7 linked regions of the Homo sapiens genome follow. The protein of the gene in region 3 interacts with the protein of the main gene of each other region in a pairwise test. Each region holds a gene or a part of one and is shown on either strand. Other genes may lie near its edges. The genes, in order: BANP, MID2, TTC23, LZTS2, KIAA1328, ZBTB16 and KLHL42.

Evidence for each region.
Region 1: the proteins of TTC23 (region 3) and BANP interact in binary tests that used the Homo sapiens proteins (3 or more experiments, as listed by UniProt).
Region 2: the proteins of TTC23 (region 3) and MID2 interact in binary tests that used the Homo sapiens proteins (3 or more experiments, as listed by UniProt).
Region 4: the proteins of TTC23 (region 3) and LZTS2 interact in binary tests that used the Homo sapiens proteins (3 or more experiments, as listed by UniProt).
Region 5: the proteins of TTC23 (region 3) and KIAA1328 interact in binary tests that used the Homo sapiens proteins (3 or more experiments, as listed by UniProt).
Region 6: the proteins of TTC23 (region 3) and ZBTB16 interact in binary tests that used the Homo sapiens proteins (3 or more experiments, as listed by UniProt).
Region 7: the proteins of TTC23 (region 3) and KLHL42 interact in binary tests that used the Homo sapiens proteins (3 or more experiments, as listed by UniProt).

Annotation. Positions count from the first base shown.
Region 1 is NC_000016.10:88,034,934-88,038,433, reverse strand, and holds part of BANP (protein BANP), read right to left. Parts: intron 3,112-3,500; coding exon 3,040-3,111; intron 462-3,039; coding exon 423-461; intron 1-422. UniProt on the Homo sapiens protein: Controls V(D)J recombination during T-cell development by repressing T-cell receptor (TCR) beta enhancer function. Binds to scaffold/matrix attachment region beta (S/MARbeta), an ATC-rich DNA sequence located upstream of the TCR beta enhancer.
Region 2 is NC_000023.11:107,839,366-107,842,865, forward strand, and holds part of MID2 (probable E3 ubiquitin-protein ligase MID2), read left to right. Parts: intron 1-1,304; coding exon 1,305-2,020; intron 2,021-3,500. UniProt on the Homo sapiens protein: E3 ubiquitin ligase that plays a role in microtubule stabilization. Mediates the 'Lys-48'-linked polyubiquitination of LRRK2 to drive its localization to microtubules and its proteasomal degradation in neurons.
Region 3 is NC_000015.10:99,243,082-99,246,581, forward strand, and holds part of TTC23 (tetratricopeptide repeat protein 23), read right to left. Parts: intron 2,430-3,500; 5' UTR 2,308-2,429; intron 1-2,307. UniProt on the Homo sapiens protein: Participates positively in the ciliary Hedgehog (Hh) signaling.
Region 4 is NC_000010.11:101,005,571-101,008,333, reverse strand, and holds the end of LZTS2 (leucine zipper putative tumor suppressor 2), read right to left. Parts: coding exon 2,619-2,763; intron 1,850-2,618; coding exon 1,166-1,849; 3' UTR 501-1,165; downstream 1-500. UniProt on the Homo sapiens protein: Negative regulator of katanin-mediated microtubule severing and release from the centrosome. Required for central spindle formation and the completion of cytokinesis.
Region 5 is NC_000018.10:37,066,627-37,070,126, reverse strand, and holds part of KIAA1328 (protein hinderin), read right to left. Parts: intron 3,260-3,500; exon of another isoform or gene 3,238-3,259; coding exon 2,582-3,237; intron 1-2,581. UniProt on the Homo sapiens protein: Competes with SMC1 for binding to SMC3. May affect the availability of SMC3 to engage in the formation of multimeric protein complexes.
Region 6 is NC_000011.10:114,244,711-114,248,210, reverse strand, and holds part of ZBTB16 (zinc finger and BTB domain-containing protein 16), read right to left. Parts: intron 1,014-3,500; coding exon 846-1,013; intron 1-845. UniProt on the Homo sapiens protein: Acts as a transcriptional repressor. Transcriptional repression may be mediated through recruitment of histone deacetylases to target promoters. May play a role in myeloid maturation and in the development and/or maintenance of other differentiated tissues.
Region 7 is NC_000012.12:27,783,233-27,786,732, reverse strand, and holds part of KLHL42 (kelch-like protein 42), read right to left. Parts: intron 1-3,500. UniProt on the Homo sapiens protein: Substrate-specific adapter of a BCR (BTB-CUL3-RBX1) E3 ubiquitin-protein ligase complex required for mitotic progression and cytokinesis. The BCR(KLHL42) E3 ubiquitin ligase complex mediates the ubiquitination and subsequent degradation of KATNA1.

The sequences.
Region 1 (3,500 bases), on a different chromosome or scaffold from region 3:
CTGAAATCCTACGGAGCAGCAAATGTAACCCCCAAGCCCTGCCCTCCCCCCTTCCAGGCCTGTGCATTGTCATGGTGAGGAAAGCCAGTCCTGCTCTGGGGCTCACACTGAGAGGCCTTTGCACCCTCGCTCCCTCCCGCGAGAGCCCCCATTCCTTGGCAGCACCATGGCCTGTATGTGAGAGGGGGACTGTGGCACTCACCTGACCATCCGCCCCCTTCCCATGAGAGCCCCACCCCTCGGCAGCGCAATGCCCACAATGACCGTCCCACCCCTCCCGTGAGAGCCCCACCCCTCGGCAGCGCAATGCCCACATGTACATGGGGACCAGGGCACTCACCTGACCGTCCCACCCCCTCCCCTGAGAACCCCATCCCTCGGCAGCGCAACGCCCGCATGTGCATGGGGACTGGGACACTCACCTGACCGTCCTGCCCCACGTGATGGATCTGGAGGTTGCCCTACAAAGAACGAGAGGAGGAGACGGTCATGAGTAGAAACACACCAAGACACCCTCAGACACGGCAAACACGCCAAGACACATCACAGGCCACTTGAGAATAACAAGAAAACCCCAGTTCTGCAAAAATTCAACCTCCAGTAGCAACAAAAGCCCCAAAACAAAATATTGACATTTCTAGGTACTATTTATTATTTTAAAGATGAACAAACAACTCAAAAAGCATTGTACTCATTCCCCTACCCTGACCCCAAATGAAAATGTCATTTTTACTTCATTTTTTATTTTGAAAGAATCTGACTCACAAAAAGTACAGAAAGTAGCAGAGAGACGTCCTATGTGTGTGTCGCCCAGCTTCCCCGAAGGGGGACGCCTTGCTGAGCTGTGCGGCATCACCACGCCAGGTCACGGGCTGCACGCAAGGAACCAACTCACTCAACCACAGAGCTACTAAGAGCTCTCCAGTTAGAAATTCATTTTCATTTGTTGTAAAAAGGAACTGTGTTGTCTGTCAGACCCTGCTAAATGTTTATTTGCAGATATCCTGTTTTAACAAAATAATTTTAAATGAACACGGTATGAATGTATGGTGACGAGACTGCATACTGTCACTCATCACAAAGCCATCGTTAGTATTATTAGCAATTTCTAACTTACTGCATTCAATTCCTATTGAAAACGAAAGACAATCACCTATACAAGATGGATTCAGTTTTGAAAACTGATGGATAAAACTAATAATAAAAAATTGAAATTCGAGTAGTCAAGATTTTTTTAGCATAAACTATAAAAAGCAAATGTGTGTTGTTTTTTTTCTTTTGCTGCTGTTTCAATTTTCCTGCATTTTCAATGACTCTAAGGAAATTAAGCATTCTGACGAACTTCATAGGCTTCCAGGTATTCAAGAACTCTGGCTGAGCTCTTTGGCAGTGAGCTTAGCCTCCCAGCCCACATCTGTCTGTGCCTTGAGAAGCAAACCTTCCCCTGCCCCTCAAAGGCAGCTCCTGCACTGGAAGGTGCTGCTGGGATCCTGCACCTCGCAGCCACTCAGGCCCCCAACTCCTGCACCTGACCTCGCTGAGCTGACAGGCGCATCTCCTGACATCTCCAAGGAGATGGTCCCTGACCCACCCACAGACACAGAACAGGGAAGGCCCTGCTCCTTCCTGGACACTCTGGCCTCCTGGGACCGTCCCCTACCTGCTCCCCGCCCTGCTGCTTCCTTCCATCCATCCATCTGACCACGTTTCTTAGTGACCTGGTCATGTCGCTGTGTGGATGAGCCCACTCATTCCCAGTCGCTCACGGCCCCCACATGAATTCGTTCCTCCCCTTTCACCTCATCCTCATTCCGCCCTCAGAACCCTTACGCATGTGCTCCCCTCTCAGGATAACCCACCGGGAACTGCTGGTGTCCAAATTAAAGCCACTGCCAGCAGACACGCCCGAGTCCCTGGTGCTCCACGTGCCACGGCGTGCATGTGTCCACAGTCTTGCTCACGGGCACTTGGGCAGGAGGCTCTGCGCCCGCTGTGAGTCCCCGATGGCAGGGCTTCTCTCTCCTCTGCTCCCCCACAGCACCTGCACCCAGCATGAGCTCCCAGGAGGCCTCGCACGCCAACATCTCCATGAGTCCCCTTGACCTCAGCACCCGGGCTTCCTAGTCTCTGCTGCTGGTGTGTGTGGGGAAGCCTGAGATCTTTGCAGCGACACACTACTATGCACCAAACACAAAGCTGGTGCCATTGTCACGACCTAGAAACAGCCATGTTCCTCATCCCCCAGAGCGCACCACGGTCACTGAGTACAACACGTGTGTGCTGCTTAGTGCCCTGTGCCTGCTGCTGCCTGTGCTGCAGGAAACAGCCCAGAGTCGAAGGACGGTCACCCGGGAGACAGTCCTGCTCTGGCATGCAAACATGGAGCATCGCAACAGGCTGGCCTCGGCTTTCCAAGAACTCAGACTGTCACTGCCGCCTTCACATTCCAGACCCCAACAGCAGCTGAGCCCGCACTTCTGAGTGCGTGGCCGGGTAGAGCTCCAGAAACTGAGACAATCACAGACCCAGCAGGTGCGTCAAGGGCTATGAGCAGCTCTCAGGACTGGCAGCATCACCTTGTGGGATTCCCCACCATCCCATGAAATCGGCACTAATCCCGTAGAGGCCACTAGGAAGCTGGGGCCACATGGCAGGTGAGGGGGTATGTCAGGTCACCTACGCAGGGGCAGACCCCATCTCGGCCACACTGGGGGCCTCCCCTGGCAGGAAGGGCAGGGCCAGACAGGGAGAGAAGGGTACTCAGAGGGCACTTCCAGCCAGCAGTAGAAACATCTACCCAGGAGATCTTTACCAAGACAGACCAGAAGCTGTGGAGACCAACGGACAGGAGGGGGAGGCAGAGAGGCCACAGAGACTGCAGGCCCGCTATGTGCACCCTGGAAGCGGAGTCCTGCAGCCCTTGCCCACGTTCCCTGTCCTGGGGGCTCCCTGCTGCCCTCGCACTGTGACACCGATGAAGGTCGGGAGCATGTGGGCACGGTGCCTGCAGGGACAGTGCTGCAGCGAGAGCTGACTCACCTCGCTGTCCTGCGTGATCTGGACTTGCTCCCCCTGCGGCACCTGGGCGATGTGGAGGTGTCCCTGTGGGATCCGCAGCAAGAAAAGACACCAAGAAGCATCAGAAGAAAATCAAAAGCAAAGGAAACAAGAAACATCTTCCGGAATGTTTGTTCTTGATTATCTGTTTACAATTCAAAAAGATAACTAAATCCTGAATAGTGCAATATAGTCTGTGGTCACTTCTTTAAATTAAGCTTTTGGTTCACAGTAGTCCCCCTCATCCATGAGGGTTTCAAGAAGCACCCCCTACCCCCACCACGTGGACGCCAGAAACTGTGGATGGTGCTGAACCCCATATATGCTATGCTTTTTCCCGCCCATATGTGCCACACAGCTTGGACATGCTGGACAAAGGAACGACTCACGTCCCGGGCTGGACAGAGCAGGACGACCAGACTTCATCATGCTACTACTCAGAA
Region 2 (3,500 bases), on a different chromosome or scaffold from region 3:
GTTTGTTTTGTTTGTTTTTTTTTTTTTTGGCAGTCTCACTCTGTCACCCAGGCAAGAGTGCAGTGGCATGATCTCGGCTTACTGCAACCTCCACCTCCCAGGTTCAAGCGATACTTCTGGTTCAGCCTCCCGAGTAGCTGGGACCACAGGCAAGCGCCACCACGCCCAGCTAATTTTTGCATTTTTAGTAGAGACAGGGTTTCACCATATTGGCCAGGAAGGTCTGGACCTCCTAACCTCGTGATCCACCCACCTTGGCCTCCCAAAGTGCTGGGATTACAGGCGTGAGCCACTGTGCCCGGCCGGGTGACCTCTTTTACTCACTGATGCTCACTAAATTGAAGGTTACCAGATCTTAAAATTTCTGGAACTTTGCTAATTTCTATCTAGATATTGATTTGCATCCTGTTATGTTTTAGAAAGTATGAAAAGACACATGGGAGGTGAGCTTCATAGCTGGCTTGTGCTAGTTCAGCAGGTGTTTAGTAATGAAACCAAACTGAAGCCACAAGGCAATATGACTTTATTATTGATCAGCAACTATTGCTGAGTAGGTTGAAAAGTTTGAAATCATTCCCCATTCAGCTTGATGAACTGAAGGGGTTTCTGAAGGTGAGGGAAGAAGATGAAAGTGAAAACTATCATCTTTTATCTCAAGTAACTCAGTTTACTAGGAATAGAATGGAACGGAAATTTCCATGTGTGATAATAAGAAGTAATTCAAGTTCACACTCTGAGGAAAAACTTATTATCCTGCACCAAGGGCTACATTTTTCTAAAGCTCTCTCTTTTTTATGCAGGCTTTCAGAATGGAATCATTTCAGGAAGTAGAGAGTTACTTTAAAATATGGCATTGTTTTCCTTACACTGGATGTCACATAGAAGCAGCCCTACAGTTTACCTTGAAGTGAAATAGAGAACAATATTGGAGAATAGAGATTGGGAATTTTGCAGGGTCTCAGCCTTATCTTAGTCTAGGAAAAGAGATGTCAGTGGAGAATATGTGAGAGAATGATCCATGCAAATATTGTGAGCTGGAATGGTAATGTTAATCAGTCTATCAGGATTCAGAGGTGGCCATTTGGTTTTATCTATTTGTGCATGAAAATAAACATAGGCATTTGTCTAAAACAAGGTTTGAAGGGGAAGAAAGTCTTCCTGATTAGTTCCCAAATTGCTTTTCTATTGCTTAAGCATCTCTGGGGAATCCAGCACGTAAACGCGCCCATTGGTTAGTGTATAATTGTGTTATATCCATTTTCCTTTGGAAATGCCTAATGACTCTTGCTTTGTATTCCTTGCAGGTGAAAGCCCAGCCTCCGTGGTTCTTAATGCCTCAGGAGGACTATTTTCACTAAAGATGGAAACACTGGAGTCTGAATTGACCTGTCCAATCTGCCTAGAGTTGTTTGAAGACCCCCTTCTGCTCCCTTGTGCTCACAGCCTCTGCTTCAGCTGTGCCCATCGCATTTTGGTATCAAGCTGCAGCTCTGGTGAATCCATTGAACCCATTACTGCTTTCCAGTGTCCTACCTGCAGGTATGTTATCTCGCTGAACCACCGGGGCCTGGATGGCCTCAAGAGGAATGTGACTCTGCAGAACATTATTGATCGCTTCCAGAAGGCTTCAGTCAGTGGGCCCAATTCCCCTAGTGAGAGCCGCCGGGAAAGGACTTACAGGCCCACCACTGCCATGTCTAGCGAGCGAATTGCTTGCCAATTCTGTGAGCAGGACCCGCCAAGGGATGCAGTAAAAACATGCATCACCTGTGAGGTCTCCTACTGTGACCGTTGCCTGCGGGCCACGCACCCCAACAAGAAACCTTTCACCAGCCACCGCCTGGTGGAACCAGTGCCAGACACACATCTTCGAGGGATCACCTGCCTGGACCATGAGAATGAGAAAGTGAACATGTACTGTGTATCTGATGACCAATTGATCTGTGCCTTATGCAAACTGGTGGGTCGTCACCGAGACCATCAGGTCGCATCCCTGAATGATCGATTTGAGAAACTCAAGGTAAGGGATCTGGGGAGCATCCCCTATACAACTTTGTCGCATAAATGCAGTTAGCAAGTTCTCTAATAAAATAGGTGACTTTTCCTATATGACAAGTGAGTTAACTTTAAGTTGTTCTCATGAGGAATAACCTGCTCTCCTGCAAGCTCTTCCTGGAGCCTATCTCATCTGTTGCATAAACATTCTTGCAGTCACACACTTCTGGCTAACTTTTGGGGAGTCAGCTCATGGCCTGCAACACCAGTAGTTCATCCAGGGAAACACACCCTCTATCTTCTGTCAGTGACATATTGCTTATTATATATCTTTGCTATGATCTTTCCACCTCTTCTTTTAAGTATGTGAGTACTTGTGTACGTGTACTACAATTAGCATATGTGTCGATTTGCATATGTAGGTATATGGCAATGGGAAGGCAGGGTGTGTCTCTGTGTAGGTGTGGGTGGAGGTGGCTGAGTGTATCTAGGTAGGTGAGAGATTTTTGTGGAGGACATTATTGTATGTTTGTGTTTGTGTACTCAATACACTAAAGAAACAAAAGTTTGGCATTGGCCATTACAAATTGCCATTAAGCCTTTAACATAGGGCTAATTCTAAGCCTGCCTTTAAAAACAAAACAAAACAAAACAAAACAAAGAACTGAAGAAACTTCAGTATACCACGAAATTGGGAGGGATAATTAAATATCTGAATGAACAATTTAAACTGAAGGCAATAAATATTTTATCCAGTATCAAATTTTGTGACAGTGCTCACTATTATGGGCTACAAACTGAAGCATTTGTTTATAGTTCCTGCCTTACAAGTTCCTAGTCATTTATGTGTATTCAATGGACAGAGTTTTCTAAAGTTGTTGTGTCATATAATATGTATGTACAAGTCTAAGTGCCCATAAAAAGTCCTCCTACCTTACACTGATGATCCAGCGAATTGTTTTATTCCCATTGCTTGTCTGCTATGTTGTATAATTTCTCTTAAGAAGGGAGCTACTTAGCAGATATTCTAGAAAAATAAAATGTTTAAACGGATAGTAAAATTACCACTCCAAATAGAACCTGAGTACATAAGCCAAGCTAGAAGAAAGACCCAGATAGGATAAAAGGAGGGCAAGAAGGGAATGGAGATTTTCCTCCTGCCATGCAGTGGATGATTCATTGTAACTTCTGTAAAAAGTATAATGTTGGTGAGAGTAGCAGTACTCAGAATAGGATATATTTGTCCTGTAATTTGTTGCAAATAATATTGAGAGTAGTCACAATGACTATGGTTTGTGCCTCTTTTGGTTATTATTTATACCTGATATGTATAAATGTGTAGCAAATTCAATTTTTTTATTTCACTCAAGTTGATACTCTCATTCATATCAAGGCTGCAGAGGGAAATAATCTTGTTAACTTCAGTTCTTAGACTCATAAGATATTAGGCCTTTGACTTGGTCTAGTCGAAGCGCTCTACTTTAAAGTTGTATAAACAGACCTTG
Region 3 (3,500 bases):
ATATTTGTAAACTACCCATCTGACAAGGGATTAATAACCAGAATATATAAGGAGCTTAAACAAAACCCAATAGGAAAAAAAATCTAATAATCTGATTAAAAAGTGAGCAAAAGATCTGAATAGACATTTCTCAAAAGACATGCAAATAACCAACAAGTATATGAAAAAATACTCAACATCACTGATCAGCACAGAAAGGCAAATCAAACTACAATGAGGTCATCTCACCCCAGTTAAGATGGCTTTTATTAAAAAGGCAGTAACAGATGCTGGTGAGGATGTGGACAAAGGGGGACACTCATACACTGTTGGTGGGAATGCAAGTTATTACAGCCACTGTGGAGAACAGTATGGAAGTTCCTCAAAAAGCTAAAAATAGAAGAACTACCATATGATCCAGCAGTCCCACTGCTCCATATATATCCAAAAGAAAAGTATATCAGAGATATCTGCACTCCCATGTGTACTGCAGCTCTATCCACAACAGCCAAGATTTGGAATCAGCCTAAATGTTCATCAACACATGAATGGATAAAAAAATGTGGTAGATATACACACAAAACAGAACGAAATCCTGTCATTTACAGCAACATGGATGAAACTGAAGGATATTATACTAAGAGAAATTAACCAGGCAGAGAGAGACAAATTTTGTATGTTCTCACTCATTTATGAGAGCTAAAAATTAAAACAACTGAACTCATGAACACAGAGAGTAGAATGATGATTACCAGAAGCTGGGAAGGGTATTGGGCAGGGAGGGAAAAGTGGGGATAGTTAATGGGTACAAAACGTAGTTAGATAGAATGAATAAGATCTAGTACTTGATATCACAACAGGGTGACTACAGTCAACAATAAGTTATTGTATATTTTAAAATAACTAAAAGAGTAGAATTGGAATAATTCTAACACAAAGAAATGATAAGTGCTTGAGGACACAGATACCCACTTACTCTGATGTGATTACTATACATTGTATGCCTGTGTCAAAGCATCACATGTATCTCATAAATATATACACCTACTACTATGTACTCACAAAAATTAAAAATTAAAAAACAAAACCAAAAAATCCTGATTTACAAAAACCTAAAGCTAATATCATACTTAATGGAGCATGTTTGAATGTTTTCCAAGATTGGAAACAAGGCAAGAATGATTTCTCTCACCACCTGTAGTCAAAGTTGTGGATATTACAGTCAGAGCAACAGGCAAGAACAATAAATTAAGGCATGAAGATTAGAAAGGGAGAAATAAAACATTATTATCAGCTGACATAACCCTCTATGTAGAAAATCCTAAGGATTCCACAATAAATAAACAAATAAATCGCCCCCCCCAATTAGAACGACTAAATAAGTTCGGCAAGGCCATAGGATACATAATAAATAAATAAAATTGTATTTTTATATGTCAGCAATAAATAATCTGAAAATAAAATTAAGAAAACACTGATTCAAAATAGGATAAAGAGAATAAATATGTAGGAATAAATTTAACAAAAGAAATACAAGACTTGTACAATGAAAATCATACATTATCGAAAGAAATTAAAGATCTAAATACATGGACATTCCATGTTCATAGATTAAAAGCCTCAATATTAAGATAGAATACTCCTCAAATTGATGTATCGATTTAATGTAATATCCATCAAAACTCAGCTGTTTTTTTGCAGAAATTAACAAGTTGATCCTTATTATGGATGAATTAAGATGGAAATACGAGACTAAGAATAAATAAAACAATCTTAAAAAAGAAGTTGGAGGACTCACACTTCCCATTTTTAAAATGTACTATAAAACTAAAGTAAAAGTAATCAAAAGTGTTGTACTTAAAAATTTTCAGTTATGAGGTAAATAAGTTCTAGAGATATACAGCATGGTAACTATAGAAAATAATTGAAATTTGTTAAGATCTCAGATGTTCTCATCACACACACAAAAATGGTAATTATGTCAAGTGATGAATGTGTGAGCTAGCTCTATTGTGGGAATCATTACAAAAGGTACACTTATATCAAAACACCATGATGTTTACCTCAAATGTATATAATTTTTAGTTTGTCAATCATATTTCAATAAAGCTGGGGAAAAGCCCTCCCCAAAACAACGTGGTGGTACTGGCATAAGAAATGACATATAGAGGCCGGGCGTGGTGGCTCATGCCTGTAATCCCAGCACTTTGGGAGGCCGAGGTGGGCGGATCACTTGAGGTCGGGAGTTCGAGACCAGACTGGCCAACATGGCAAAACGCTGTCTCTACTAGAAATACAAAAAATTTAGCCAGATTTGGTGATAAGTACCTGTAATTCCAGCTACTCGAGAGGCTGAGGCAGGAGAATCGCTTGAACCTGGGAGGCAGAGGTTGCAGTGAGCCAAGATCACACCACTATACTCCAGCCTGGGTGACAGAGCGAGACTCCATCTCAAAAAAAAAAAAAAAAGAATTAATATATAGAAAAATGGGATAGTGTTGAGAGTCCAAAAATAAACTCTTATATATGTGAATTATTTTTTTTAACAAGCATGCCAAGATAATTCAATGGGAAGAGAACAGTCTTTTCAATAAACAATAAACAGTGCTGGTACAACTGGATAGATACATGAAAAGAATAAAGTTGGATCTCTACACCTCACACCATATACAAAAATTAACTCCAAATGGAGTAAAGACTTAACAGTAAGAGGTAAAACTATAAAACTCTTTGCAAATATAGGAGTAAATCTTCATGAACTTTTTTTTTTTTTTTTGAGACAGACTCTCGCTGGAGTGCAGTGGCGTGATCTCGGCTCACTGCAACCTCCACCTCCCAGGTTCAAGACATTCTCCTGACTCAGCCTCCCTGACTCAGCCTCCCAAGCAGCTGGGATTACAGGTGCCTACCACCACGCCCAGCTAATTTTAGTAGAGACGGGGTTTCACCCTGTTGGCCAGGCTGTTCTCGAGCTCCTGACCTGAGGTGATCCACCCGACTTGGCCTCCCAAAATACTGGGATTACAGGTGTGAGTCACAGGGCCCAGCCTGTTAGGCAAAGACTTCTGAGATATAACACCAAAAGCATAAGTGATAAAAGAAAAAAAAAGATAAATTAGATTTCATCAAATCCAAATCTTTACTGCTTCAAAAGACACTATTATTAAAGTTAAAAGACAACCCACAGAATGGGAGACAATATTTGTAAATCATTAATCTGATAAAGGACTTTAACCACAATATATAAAGAACAATTAAAAATCAGTAACATGGGGCTGGGCGTGGTGGCTCACGCCTGTAATCCCAGCACTTTGGGAGGCCGAGGTGGGCAAATCACGAGGTCAAGAGTTCAAGACCAGCCTGGCCAACATGGTGAAACCCTGTCTCTACTAAAAATACAAAAAATTAGCTGGGCATAGTAGTGGGCACCTGTAATCCCAGCTACTCAGGAGGCTGAGGCAGGAGAATCGCTTGAACCTAGGAGGCAGAGGTTGCAGTGAGCTGAGATCGAGCCACTGTAC
Region 4 (2,763 bases), on a different chromosome or scaffold from region 3:
ATCTTTCCACTTTCTTCCCTCCTCAGCTGTCATTAAGGCTCTGCCTTAGTGTCCAAGGACAAGGTGCTAGTGGGCAGCCTGTGTCACCTGCACTCACTGCTCCCCAACCTCCCAAGCCAGGATAGGGGGTGAGAAAGCCAAGGTCTGGAGCTTGGGATTGGTGGGCACTTTCTCACATGCTGTCCCTTATGAGTCGCCCAAGCCTCCAGGGACACAGACTCTCAGACAGGGCCCTGAAGGGGTCAATGCATCCATTCCTCAACCCCAAGCAGCATTCTGTGCAAGGAAACGGATGAAAGGCTTTTCTAGTCCCTGAAATCCTGAGAGATCATTTCACGTTGGGGTCCACTAAGACCTCAGACATTCTACTGGATTTGTCCTTCCTCCATCACCTTTTCTCCCCAAGAGAGCTCTATGAGGGGGAGGAGAATAGCCAGCAAATGGTGGGGGGGGGGGGGTCAAACAAGTTCCTGTACTCTTTATCCAGCACATTCACATTATTTTTAAACAAAAAAATTTTTTTTAATTTTTTCTTTGGGTTTGTACAAGAAATTTACAGTGTGAAAAATATACAAGTGAAAACGAGGCCATAAACCTGGGTGAAGGGAGAGGCTGCTTGGTCACAAACACAAATAAACAAGACATTTCTGAGTTCTTCCTTTGGTCTGACTTCAGCCCCCTCACTCCAGGAGAGAGGCTGCAGAGCTCAAACCTGGGAACCGAGCCCAGGCCCGGCCCTGTCCCCCAATGTGGGCAGGCACATCCGGAGCAGCTGGTGCCATCTGGCTTTCTCTGGCTTTGGGGTCGGGGGGAATGTGAAGAGGAGGGAGCCCCTTCTTCTTCCCTGCTCCCCTGGCTGGAGTGGGCTGGAAGCGCCTGTGAACAGGGTTGGCAGTGGCACTGGCAGCGGTGGGGAATGAAGTGGGTAGTAACAAGAGCCTCTGGGTAACAGTGAACACGGGGACCTTTGAGCGGTCTGATCTTGCTCCTCCAAGTCATAGGGCCACCCTGAGTTCTTGGCAGAAGCCCAGAGGCCTGGATCCTAGGAGACAAGTGGCTTTGGGGCCCTCAGCCTTTGGGGCCATCCGTGGACCCTGGGGCCTAAGTGGATCTGCAGCTGCTGCCCCTCTGGCAGAGCTCCCTACAGAGCTGGTTGCTGAGGGCCCTAGATCTCAGTAGCAGTGATCTCCTCCAGGCAGATGCAGGGGGCCTGCTCGGCCAGGCCCAGGTCAGCGAGCTCCCGGGCCTCCAGCTCCAGGCTGAGCTGCTGCAGCTCCTGCTCTAGCTGCCGGTTGCGCCGGTACATCTGGATGTAGTTGTGCTGCAGCTGCTTCTGGTAGCGGATCACCTGCTCCTTCTCTGCCTGCCAGGCCAGCCGCTCCCCCTCAAAGCTGTCCCGCTGCTCCTCACCCCGCCGCCGCTCCCGCTGCAGCTCCACCCGCAATCGCTCCACCTGGGCCCGCAAGCTGCCCCCAACCCCGGCTGCTGCCCGCTGCACTTTGGCCTCATCACTCTCTGCCAGGAGGAATGGGTCAGCGGTGGCAGGTGGCACAGGGGGCTCCCGGAGTCCGGCCGCCTCAGCATCCAACTGCCCAGCTTTCTCCCGCAGCTGCTCAGCTTCCTGGCGGTGTCGCTGCAGCTCCTGGGAACAGGCTTCCAGCTCCAGCTCCCGAGCTCGGGCGGCCTCCTGTAGACCCCGCGCACGGCCCTCACTGACCCGCAGCGTAGCACGGGCCTCCCGCAGCGCCACCCGCAGAGCCACCAGCTCGCTGCCCTTCTGCACCAGCTCTGCCTGAGACTCTTTCAGCTGCTGCTTCAGCAGGGAGATCTCGCCTGATTTCTGGCACACCTGGGGGTGGGAGGAAGTGGGGAAGGATGGTGAGACAGGTTCTCCTGGGGGGACAGGCCCTGCACATCATGCTGGGCATTTGGGAGAGAAGAGTCCATCTTTATCCCCATTTTACAGATGGAGACACTAAAGCAAGTCTAGTGACATGTCCAAGGTCATACAGTTAAGATGGGGCTTAAGTGGAAAGCAGACCTAGAACTTTTTGCTTCAAAGCTGGTGTCTTCAAAGCATCACAAGACACTGCAAGTACCACCAAGCCCTGGGGACTGGGGACTGGGGACTGGGTCCTGGCAAGTGCTGCAGGAGTGGGGACAATGGAGGGCAGTGCCCAGGTGCCTGCTGGAGAGGTACTACAGTGACCTAGTTAAGAGCTCAGATATTGGAGCCAGACTGCCTGGGTTCAGATTTGGGGCTTCAGCCTTTATGGGCCTCAGTTTACTCATCTCTAAAATGGGGAGACTAATGGTAGCCCCCTCAGTGTTGTTATAAGGATGAAATGATCTGTTCCATGTAACATGCTTAGAATAGTGCCTCCACACCACAAGCACCACATTCTTACTACTGGCTGGAAGCGTGGCTACGTGCCACTAGACAAGGCCAACAAGGAGACCCCCCTCCCAGAAAGGGACAGAGGGGAACCTCATCTCACGGAGGTGAGAAAGGGGAGGACCTCTGGGGGTGGCAGGCTGAGGGAGGGTGGGGCTGGGCCCCTTTTTCCAGGGTTTCTCCCTGTGTGACCCTGCTCCCTGCCCCTCCTGGTCTGGCCCACCTCCCACTTGGTCTCCTCAAGCCTCGGCCCGAGCTCCCGCTGCTCCCGCTCCAAGGTGGCGCAGCGCCGCTCCAGCTGTTCGCGCTCCTGCAGCAGCTGTGCGAAGTCGTCCTGCAATTGCCGCTTCTCCTGCTGCAGCTGGAAC
Region 5 (3,500 bases), on a different chromosome or scaffold from region 3:
CTTTAAGAACTTGGAAACTAAATATAACACTTCTAAATAACCCATGGGTCAAATAGGAAGTTTCAAAAGATACCCCAAAAACACACTGAATTGGATAAACATGAAAATGCAACATATCAAAATTTGTGGGACATAGCTGAATCAGTGCCGAGAAGGGAATTTAGAGCACTAAATGCTTCCAGTAGAAAAGTGAAAAAGTCTCAAACCAATATGCTTCCACCTTAACAAATTAGGAAAAAAGAAGAGCAAAGTAAATTTAAAGCAAGCAGAAGGAAGAAAATAATAAAGAGCAGAAATCAATGAAATTGAAAACAGAAAAACAATAACAAAAACTAAATGAAACAAAAACCCAGTTATTTGAAAGATAATTAAAATGAACAAACCTGTGGCAAGGCAGATTATCCAATAGATAATTTGAATAGCCTTGTAAGTATTAAGGAAATTAAACTTGGAATTTAAAAAGTCTCAAAAAATAAATTTCCAGGTCCAGATGGCTTCACTGGAGAATTCTACTAAACATTTAAAGAAGAATTAACACCAATTCTACACAATCTCTTCCAGAAAGCAGAAGCAGAGCGAACATCTCCCAACTCATTTTATGAGGCCTGCATTACCTTGATACCGAAACAAGACAAGGACACAGGGGAAAAAAGAAAAAGGAAAACAACAGAACAATATCCCTCATCAAAACTAATGTAAATAGGCCAGATGCAGTGGCTCACGCCTGTAATCCCAGCTACTTGGGAGGCTGAGGCATGAGAATCCCTTGAACCCAGTAGGTGGAGGTTGTAGTGGGCTAAGATCATGCCACTGCACTCCAGCCTGGGTGACAGAGCAAGACTCTGTCTCAAAAAAAAAAAAAAAAACTGATGCAAATATCCTCAACAAAATATTAGTAAATGGAATTCAGTAACATTTTAAAAAATCATACATTATGACCAAGTGGGGTTTATTTCAGGGATGCAAGGCTGGTTTAATATTTAAAAATCTATGTAATTCACCATATTAACAGGGCAAATAAGACAAATCACATGATCATAAAAGATATTTGACAAAATTCATAAAAGGTATTTGACAAAATTCAACACCTATGATAAAACTTTATATAATCCGTAACAGAAAAAAAAGATAAATTGGACTTCATTAAAATTAAAAATTTCTGCTCTATGAAAGATCTCATTAAGCAACTAAAAAGGCAGAGTCAGGAGCAGTGGCTCAAATTCCAGCAGTGGCTGTAATTCCAGCACTTTGGGAGGCTGAGGTGGGATAATTATTTAAGTTCAAGACCAGCCTGGGCAACAGAGTGAGAGCCTGTCTCTACCAAAAGAAAAAAAAATTAAAGATAAAAAAGAAAAGACAAGTTACAGACTGGGAGAAAATATTTGCTATTCACATATCTGACAAAAGACATATATCTAGAAGATATGAAGAACTCTCCAAACAGCAAAACACCCAAATGATCCAATTAGAATATGGGCAATACTGAAGAGAGAATTTACTGAAGAAGATAGGAGGGCAAACGTGCACACACACAAAAAGATGTTCAACATTACTAGCCATTAGTGAAATGCAAATTAAGACTGCGATGAAATGTCACTATACACGTATTAGAAGAGGTAAAATAAAAATTAATGAGAATACCAAATGCCAACAAGGATGTGGAGTAAAGAAACATTATATAATAATAAAACAGCAATTTATCTTTTGAAGCACTGTTCTTAGGAAGAATTGTTAAGGGAAGAACAGCCTACATGTGGATAGGTGTATGAGAATTCATCATTCAACAGGTCATGCTTCATGGCCAGAAAGGGTTGAATTTAGAAGACTCCCATCACTTGTTATATTTTATATTATGGTGGGTAGACATAAATTCGGAATGATGACAGCTAATCTCACTGCTTTACAATCTAATTCCACACCCCGAAATCTCAAGCTTTTACTTAATGCCTAATATTGTCCACAATGATATCAAACAGCAAAGGATTCTGCATAATGGCAAGATCATTTTAAAATGTCTTTGGAACCCAGCAAAAATTACACCAGACTGCTCAGAAATAGATATTCTAAGCTATCAATTTGGAAGACAAGGTAATCTTTGAAGTCTTCCAAAGAATAAAGGGGAATTTACTTAGTAGACATAACTGATATGCATCTCGAGTAAGCCAAGATCCAGAAAAACCTCTGGTTCTACCCATCTGCTATAGTATTACAACAATTTTACACTGTGCTCTCCAAACTACAGACATTGCTAAAAGAACAGGCAGGACTTGGGCAGGCGCGGTAGCTCATGCCTGTAATCTCAACACTTTGGGAGGTCAAGGCGGGTGGATCATGAGATCAGGAGTTCAAGACCAGCCTGGCCAAGACAGTGAAACCCCGTCTCTACTAAAAATACAAAAATTAGCCGGGCATGGTGGCGGGCGCCTGTAATCCCAGCTACTCGGGAGGCTGAGGCAGAGAACTGCTTGAACTCGGGAGGCGGAGGCTGCAGTGAGCTGAGATTGTGCCACTACACTCCAGCCTGGGCAACAGGGCGAGATTTCGTCTCAAAAAAAAAAAAAAAAGAACAGGCAGTACTCACCAATTGTAATCCAGTCGAGACTGGTGAAGCTGCTGCTGTTTTAGAAGAAGCTTTGTCTCCTGCTGGGCCAGCAGATGCTGAAGGCGCTCCTTTTCAATTTCCAGTTCCATTTTCTGAAGCATCAGTTGCTGCTTTCTATCTTCTGAGATCTGCTTTTTCAAAGTTTCAATGGGTTGCAGTGCCCCACCACCATGCACCAGAGATGCCCAAGAAAGCCGACAATAACTGCATGATTCTGGATGTGTCTTAGGATGTTGAGGGGTCATGTTTGTAGGATGGCTGTCATGAACACGATCTGCAGCAAGTCTATGACCACAGCATTGACTAGGAGTAGGCTTAAGATGTGGACATTCCTTCATGTGCAATTCTTCTTGTGGCATTTTCTCTGTTGGGACTGCAGGTTTTCTCCCTGGAGATTCACAATTACATGTTGTGGTCTCTGATGGTATCTTATCTAGATCATCTTTGGGATGATGAAGGGTTACTGGTTTCAAAGAATTATTCCTAAATGCTATAAGGGATTCTGAAGCTGAATCCTGGACTGCAGACTTAGGTCTTTGCTTGGTTTGATAGTAGGTCTGTGGTCTGGCTATGCTCAAGTAGGAACCATCCAGTTCCACAGATGAACACTGGAGAGTGCTTTTTCTACTGGATACCTAGAAAGAACCACAAGATCACCTGTCAAATAAGAACACAACAAAACAAGTTCTTTCGTTTGGTTTTTCAGAAATCAGTGATATATATTTACCAAGCCAAAGCTGTTGTTTTGTCTTAAATATTAAATTATAGCATTCACACAGCTAAACAGACTTGTGCCCCAAAGCTACATCCATTTTCAAACAACCTACCCTTCAGTAAATCTATATAAAGATAAGAAAAATAAGTTGCTGCTACATGTTGCTTAAGCATGATCTTTGGT
Region 6 (3,500 bases), on a different chromosome or scaffold from region 3:
AAAAAATAATGTGGATGGGCACGGTGGCTCACGCCTGTAATCCCAGCACTTTGGAGGCCGAGGCGGGTGAATCACTTGAGGTCAGGAGTTCGAGACCAGCCTGACCAACATGGCAAAACCCTGTCTCTACTAAAAAAAATACAAAATTAGCTGGGCGTGGTGGCACACACCTGTAATCCCAGGTAATTGGGAGGCTGAGGCAGGAGAATCGCTTGAACCCAGGAGGCAGAGATTGCAGTGAACTGAGATCGTGCCACTGCACTCCGGCCTGGCCAATAAGAGCGAAACTCCGTCTAAAAAAAAAAAATGTGAAGGCACTCTGAAGTGGTAAAACATCATATGCATATAGGGATTATTAAATATATCTGCTCTTCTAATCTCAGAACCAAACACAATCTAACTTTACAACTTCCCAACCTTCATAACAACCTAATTCAATGTATCCTAATTCTTACTCTAACCCTTGAGTAACATGAAATTACCCTAACCTTCACTTTCAGCTAATTGGACCAACTTACCCCTAATTCAGGACTCATATACAGACATCATTTTGCATGTCACCTCTGAACTACTGGTATAGCTGCCTGGAGGGCTGATGGGGGCTCACTGGAAAGTGTGCTGGGATTGATTAGTAATGTCTGCCTTGGCCTTGACTGATGGCCCTCAGGCCACCTTGACTGGGGTGTGGTGGTCCTCAGGCCACCATACCAGCTCTTAATAGAACCTCTTCTACTCTTTGATTCAGCCTGGGATCATCCTCACTTAGGCTTCTCTAGGAGACTATCTGCTTCCCACCTCCGCCCAGGTCCCAGAGCCAGCTCAGGCCCCTCCCTGGCCTTCGGTACCTGTGTGCACCCTATAGTGCGTCTCCAGCTGATGCTTGAGGCTGAACTTCTTGCCACAGCCATTGCACTCGTAGGGTTTCTCACCCGTGTGGATGCGTTTGTGGCTCTTGAGTGTGCTCTCATCCCGGAAGCAGCTGCCACAGAACTCACACTCGTAGGGGTGGTCGCCTGTGGAGACAAGGGGCTGGATCAGGCCTTTGCCTCTCCCTGCCCCCTCTTCAGGGGACAGTAGGGCACATTCTGTGCATGAGAAGGATGCGACGGCCTGTATTCACCACCTCCAAAGACAACTTAAGGATCCACGGCCACACCTCCATTGAATAAACAAGCAATACCTGTCTTCACACATGACCATACTTTACTGTGGCCCCATGATCATCTGTGGGGCAAGGGCCAGTCCTGGGAAAGAGAGCCCATTTGGTTCAGGGATGGACAGCAGTCCCCAGAAAGCAAGCCCCCTTGTGGATACATGAGACCTCACCATCTTGCTTCTCAGATGACCTCTTCTCCCCTTCCTTTAGGTTAAGGGTGAAAGTCACTCCAGCCTGACTCCCCAACCTTCAAAGAAATCTCTCCAATTTGAGGAACTTCACATTGTCCCCCAAACACCTTCTACAGTCCCCAATTTCCTTCCTCCACAGTCTTACATAGCTGTTTCCTCTGCTCGATTTCTTCTTTTCTCCCTGGTGAACTCCTAATCATCCTTCAAAGCCCAGCTCATATGATACCCCCGCGTGGACGCTTCCCTTTAGTTCCCCAGGCAGAATGAATCACACTTTCTTCTGTGTCCCCAAAGAGAAGAAATGCCCAGAATTTTGTTCTGTTATTAGTGTGGTATCATTTTTATGCCACTTTCGCATTAAAATGGGCTACATTTCCTGAGCACTCAGATGTGTGATGTGATCGCATCAGATGATCATGGCAACAAACTTAAAGAAAGATATTAGTCTCATTTTACAGTTGAGAAAAAAATGAGATGCTTCCACATCATCCCTAAGGTGAAACGGCAAGTAAGGAGCTGAGTTGGGATTCAGGTTTGGGTCTGGCTCTAGAGTCAGGGTACCATATACTTGTCAGCTTGCTGACACACTATGCTGTATCTACTGGCTTGCCCACCATACCTCCAGCATGGAAGCACCACCAGGATAAGAAGCAAGCCTCACCCATCCTTGTAGCCTCAGTGTATCGCACAGGGAGGATCCAGAACAGACCCAGGAAATGGTGGGTCTATGAAACTTGGAGAGAACTGCCTTTTCTTTTTTGAGGATCCCACTCTTAAATCTCCAGAGCATGAGAGGTTGGGGTGTGGAGAATAACCATCTTGCCTTTCATATCCAAAGTGGGGGGCTTGGGGGATGAAAGGTGAGGACTCCAGCTACTTATTTATTACAGGAGTGAAGGCGCAGACAATAAAGATAGATTGATCACCCCAGACTTTGTTCATGAATATTTAAATATCGCTGATTCGTCTTGTCACTGTAATTACAATTTCTCTGGGCTGCATCTCCAACAACCACAGTTTATGGTAAAGAATGGCCCACTGTATTTCACTTGTCCCTCTGCAGATGTGCGGGGCTGCCAACCGTGTAATGTCCTCTGCATTTCATACATTTTCTTCAGCTGCTGAAGGTTTAAGTCATCCACAATGACCTACGTTTTTGCATTATCCCCATGTCAAACTGCGCTCGTGCCTGGGCATAAATTGTCCTTCTCGTTATAGACTCGCATGCCTGTGCCTTCACTTCCTTTTTAAAATGATATTTTACTCTCTCCTGTCTCTCCCCTCCTCGGGCCACTAACCAAAGCTCCCCCCTCCCAAAGTTAGGCCCCTGTACCCACATAAATTCTCATCTGTTCTGATGGCTCTGAGGGGTTTTTAGGGCTCTGAGGGGAGCGGATGCTGGGGTCTGATCAGTGACTTTCTCATGGGTGGAAGATTTGCAAGAAGCACCCATGCCATGAGAGGGGCACTTCCATCAGGGAATCAGATGAGAGAAGCTCAAAGAGTGGCATCGTGCCTTGACACCAGTTCACCCCAATCTATGGGGTGTTGCACTGGCTCAGAGGCTCGGCCAGCGAGTCCCTCACCTGCAGATCTGGGGATGGGCCAAGGCCCAGGGTTCTCAGTTGGGGAAATTGCTACCTGCCCATCCTCACTGCCAGAGCCATGCGGACTGCCTGGCCCCCAGCCCCATCAAACTCAAGGGAGTGGAGGCCTGTGCAGACCCTGGTACTAATTAGTTGTGTGTCTAACACAGTAAGGGCCAGTCTGTGTGTGCACCCGAACCCACTCTCTCCGTGTGTCTGCACTCACAGCCCTGTCTGGTCTGACATCCAACTCCCCCTCCTTACTGAATCGGCAACGATTACGACTTTAATCAAAGATTCAGTATCCTCATTAAGGTATAAATAAATAAATAAAGCCAAGGCCACGTGAGACTTCAGCTGGAGCCGGTAATTAAAACGTACATCGGCAGCCACCCAGCCGGGTGGGGGTGAAGGCGGCGGTGGGGGGGAAGGGGGCGGCTGCCTGTGCCTTTCCCCTCCAGAGGGGTCCCTAACAATTTAAAAAACAAAGGGTTAAGACAGAGGAGTTTGTTTGATCCGATTTTTAGGAATTTAATTATGAAGTGGAGCACATGTTAAATGAGTTTA
Region 7 (3,500 bases), on a different chromosome or scaffold from region 3:
AAAAAAAAAAAAACTCTTTCAATCCCAGAGTTCCTGCTATTTAAGATTCTGGATCACTGCACTATTCAGTCCCTGGGAAAAGTGAACTGCTCTACATTTGACCCCTTTATCAAAGTAAAATACTGATACATCCCAAAGCAGTCTCCGACAAAGGTGAATCAAAGTAGATGTGAAATTCTGCATAGCCAGAGGCCAAAATCTGGTTTTCTTTCTCAAGGTTCCAAATTTCTTCCAGTGCATGCATAACCTGTATTGGATGCCTCATCCAGGAAAAACTCTGTGCTAGGTTTCATTTTTACTTGTCTCATCACCTAAACTCAATTTTAAACTTCTTGAGGGCAGCAATTACGTCATCAGTTTCTGTACATCCAACAGTGACTAGAAGAATGCTGGGCTTAAAGGCTGTCGTGGAGCTGAGGCACACATGATGAAATTTTGAAAAGTAGCACTGTACCACAAAAGATCTGTGCTCTATTTTTTAGAAGGAAATAATTTTTTTTAAAGAAGGGGGGAAATGTGCATGAAGATGGTCCCTGCAAGTCTAAAATCCAAAACTTATAAACAATTTAAGTGGTTATAACTACTCAATGGATATTTACATTTTGGTTGCTGTACTTATTACACATCCTTGAGCAATTTACTTCTCTGTGCCTCACTTTCTGTCTCTTTAGAATGGGAACCTGCCTAACAGCCCTTGTGAAGAATAAGTTAGATAATTCATGCAAAGCAGCGGGAACAGTACCTACTGCAGAGTTAAGTGTTCAATTAAATGATGTCTCTCATTATTTCTCAGCTACTCTAAATAAATATAATGACTGTTACCAAGGTAAAAATGTTCACTATAGTGTTACAAATAAAGCGAAATATAAAATTATACATTAACTTTTATTACAATAATGTAAAAATATATTCCATAGTTTTTTTTAAAGAAAACACGTATTTTAAGCACCTATTATTATTGGACATCTTGTTAGGAGTAGGGCTATACATAAGCATTGAGTAAGTCCTAGTTCCTGATCGGAAGGCAGAGAGACAACAACAGAGAATTTCAATTCAAGTCGGGGAATGTGCATGAGATGCTAGAGGAGCAGACACGGAACACTCAGCCCAAGCCAGAGTTCGGGAAGGAACTCCTAGGAGATATGTCATACCTGAGTCAAAGCAGAGGGAACTAAAGAAGGGTACAATTTCCAATACAGCATCAATAATCAATTAGAAGATATAATGGAGGGTCAGGCATGGTGGCATGTAATCTTAGCACTTTGGGAGGCCACAGTGGGAGGATTACCTGAGGCCAGGAGTTCAAGACCAGCCTGGGTAACATAGCCCCCATTTCTACAAAAGAAAAAATTTTAATTTTAAAAAATTAACCAAGCATGGTGTTGCATGCCTGTAGTCCCAGCTACTGGGGAGGCTGAAGCAGGAGGATTGCTTGAGCCCAAGAGTTGAAGGCTGCAGTAAGTTATGATCACACCACTGTACTCCAGCCTGGGTGACAAAGCAAGACCCCATTTCTTTAAAAAAGAAAAAATAAAGGGATATTTGGATGTCTGGCAACATTTCCTCCCTTCCCCGTAGAAGTAACCAGCCATGGTTGAGAGGTGGAGCCCTCTTTTGGTGGGGCGATAGCTCTCAGCTTCATCATAACTCCCACCCACCCCTCTATGCAACAATTTCACCTACCCAGTCACTTTGGGATCTTATTTTTGAACACTGCAGAAAAAATAACAGCATGGGAAAACATGCACGACATTACATAACAGACAAGAGATTAATATCTGTATTCACACATAGAACTTCTCAAATGAATGTGAAGAAAATAAGCCAATTTTTAGGAAACTGGCAAAGACCATTTACAAAAGAAATACAAATGGCCAACCAACATATAAAAAGAATAATCTCTCTTCTAATTGGGAAAAATCACACTAGTGTTTTTGCCCATTAGGTTTGGGGAAAAAAAGATGATAATATTCTATCTTGGCAAGAGTATAGGGAACTGGCAAGCACAAACACTTTTGATGGAAGAGGAAATCAGAACAATTTTTTTGATGGGCAATTTGGCGGGAGCAACCAAAATCTATTTATTTATTTATTTTTAACTGTTTATAGAGATGAGGTCTCACTATGTTGCTCAGGCTGGAGTGCAATGGCTATTCACGGGCCCGATGAGAGTGCACTGCAGCCTTCAGTTCCTGGGCTCAAGTGATCCTCCTGCCTAAGCCTCCCAAGTAGCTGGGACTACAAGCGTGAACCATTGCACCCAGCTTCAACAAAATTTAAAACATGCATACACAGCTGGGCGCGGTGGCTCACAACTTAATCCCAGCACTTTGGGAAGCCTAGGTGGGCGGATCACGAGGTCAGGAGATCGAGACCATGCTGGCTAACAAGGTGAAACCCCTTCTCTACTAAAAATACAAAAAAAAAAAAAATTAGCCAGGCGTGGTGGCGGGCACCTGTAGTCCCAGCTACTCGGGAAACTGAGGCAGGAGAATGGCGTAACCTGGGAGGCGGAGCTTGCAGTGAGCCGAGATCGCGTCACTGTACTCCAGCCTGGGCAACAGAACGAGACTCCGTCCCCAAAAAAAAAAAACAAAAACAAAAAAAAAAAACACATACACTTTGCCCTACCTATCCAGGGATTCCACGAATTTGACATATGAAACTAACTCACATATGGCTACTAAGATACATGCACGCATCTACCAGGATGTTCAATGGCAGTGCTTATTGAAACATCCAATGCAAATGGAAGTGACCTAAATGTCCATAAATAAGGGAAGGGCTAATTACATTATGGTACATCCATAGGCTGGAATGCCACGCAGCCATTAAAAAGCGTGAGGTAAGGCCGGGCGCGGTGGCTCACGCCTGTAATCCCAGCACTTTGGGAGGCTGAGGCGGGCGGATCACGAGGTCAGGAGATCGAGACCATCCTGTCTAACACAGTGAAACCCCGTCTCTACTAAAAATACAAAAAAAAATTAGCCGGGTGTGGTAGCGGGCGCCTGTAGTCCCAGCTCCTCGGGAGGCTGAGGCAGGAGAATGGCGTGAACCCGGGAGGCGGAGCTTGCAGTGAGCCGAGATCCCGCCACTGCACTCCAGCCTGGGCGACAGAGCGAGACTCCGTCTCAAAAAAAATAAAAAAATAAAAAAGCATAAGGTAGATCTACATTTGTTGACACAGAAAAAAAACTCTCAGATATGGTTAAATGGAAATATCAAGTGCCATAATAATTAGTACAACCTAGACAATTTCAGAATTTTTAAAATGTGTAAGGTGATACACCCCCGTGCACATTAATATACATAAACACTTTTCCCCTATTGTTAACCACTATCAATATACTTATACAGCTGATCCTTTAATAACACGGGTTTGAACTGTGAGGGTCCACTTACATTCAGATTTTCTTCTGCCTCTGCCACCCCGAGACTGCAAAACCAACCCTTCCTCTACCTCCTTTTCCTCCTCAGCCTACTCAGCGTCAAGATGATAA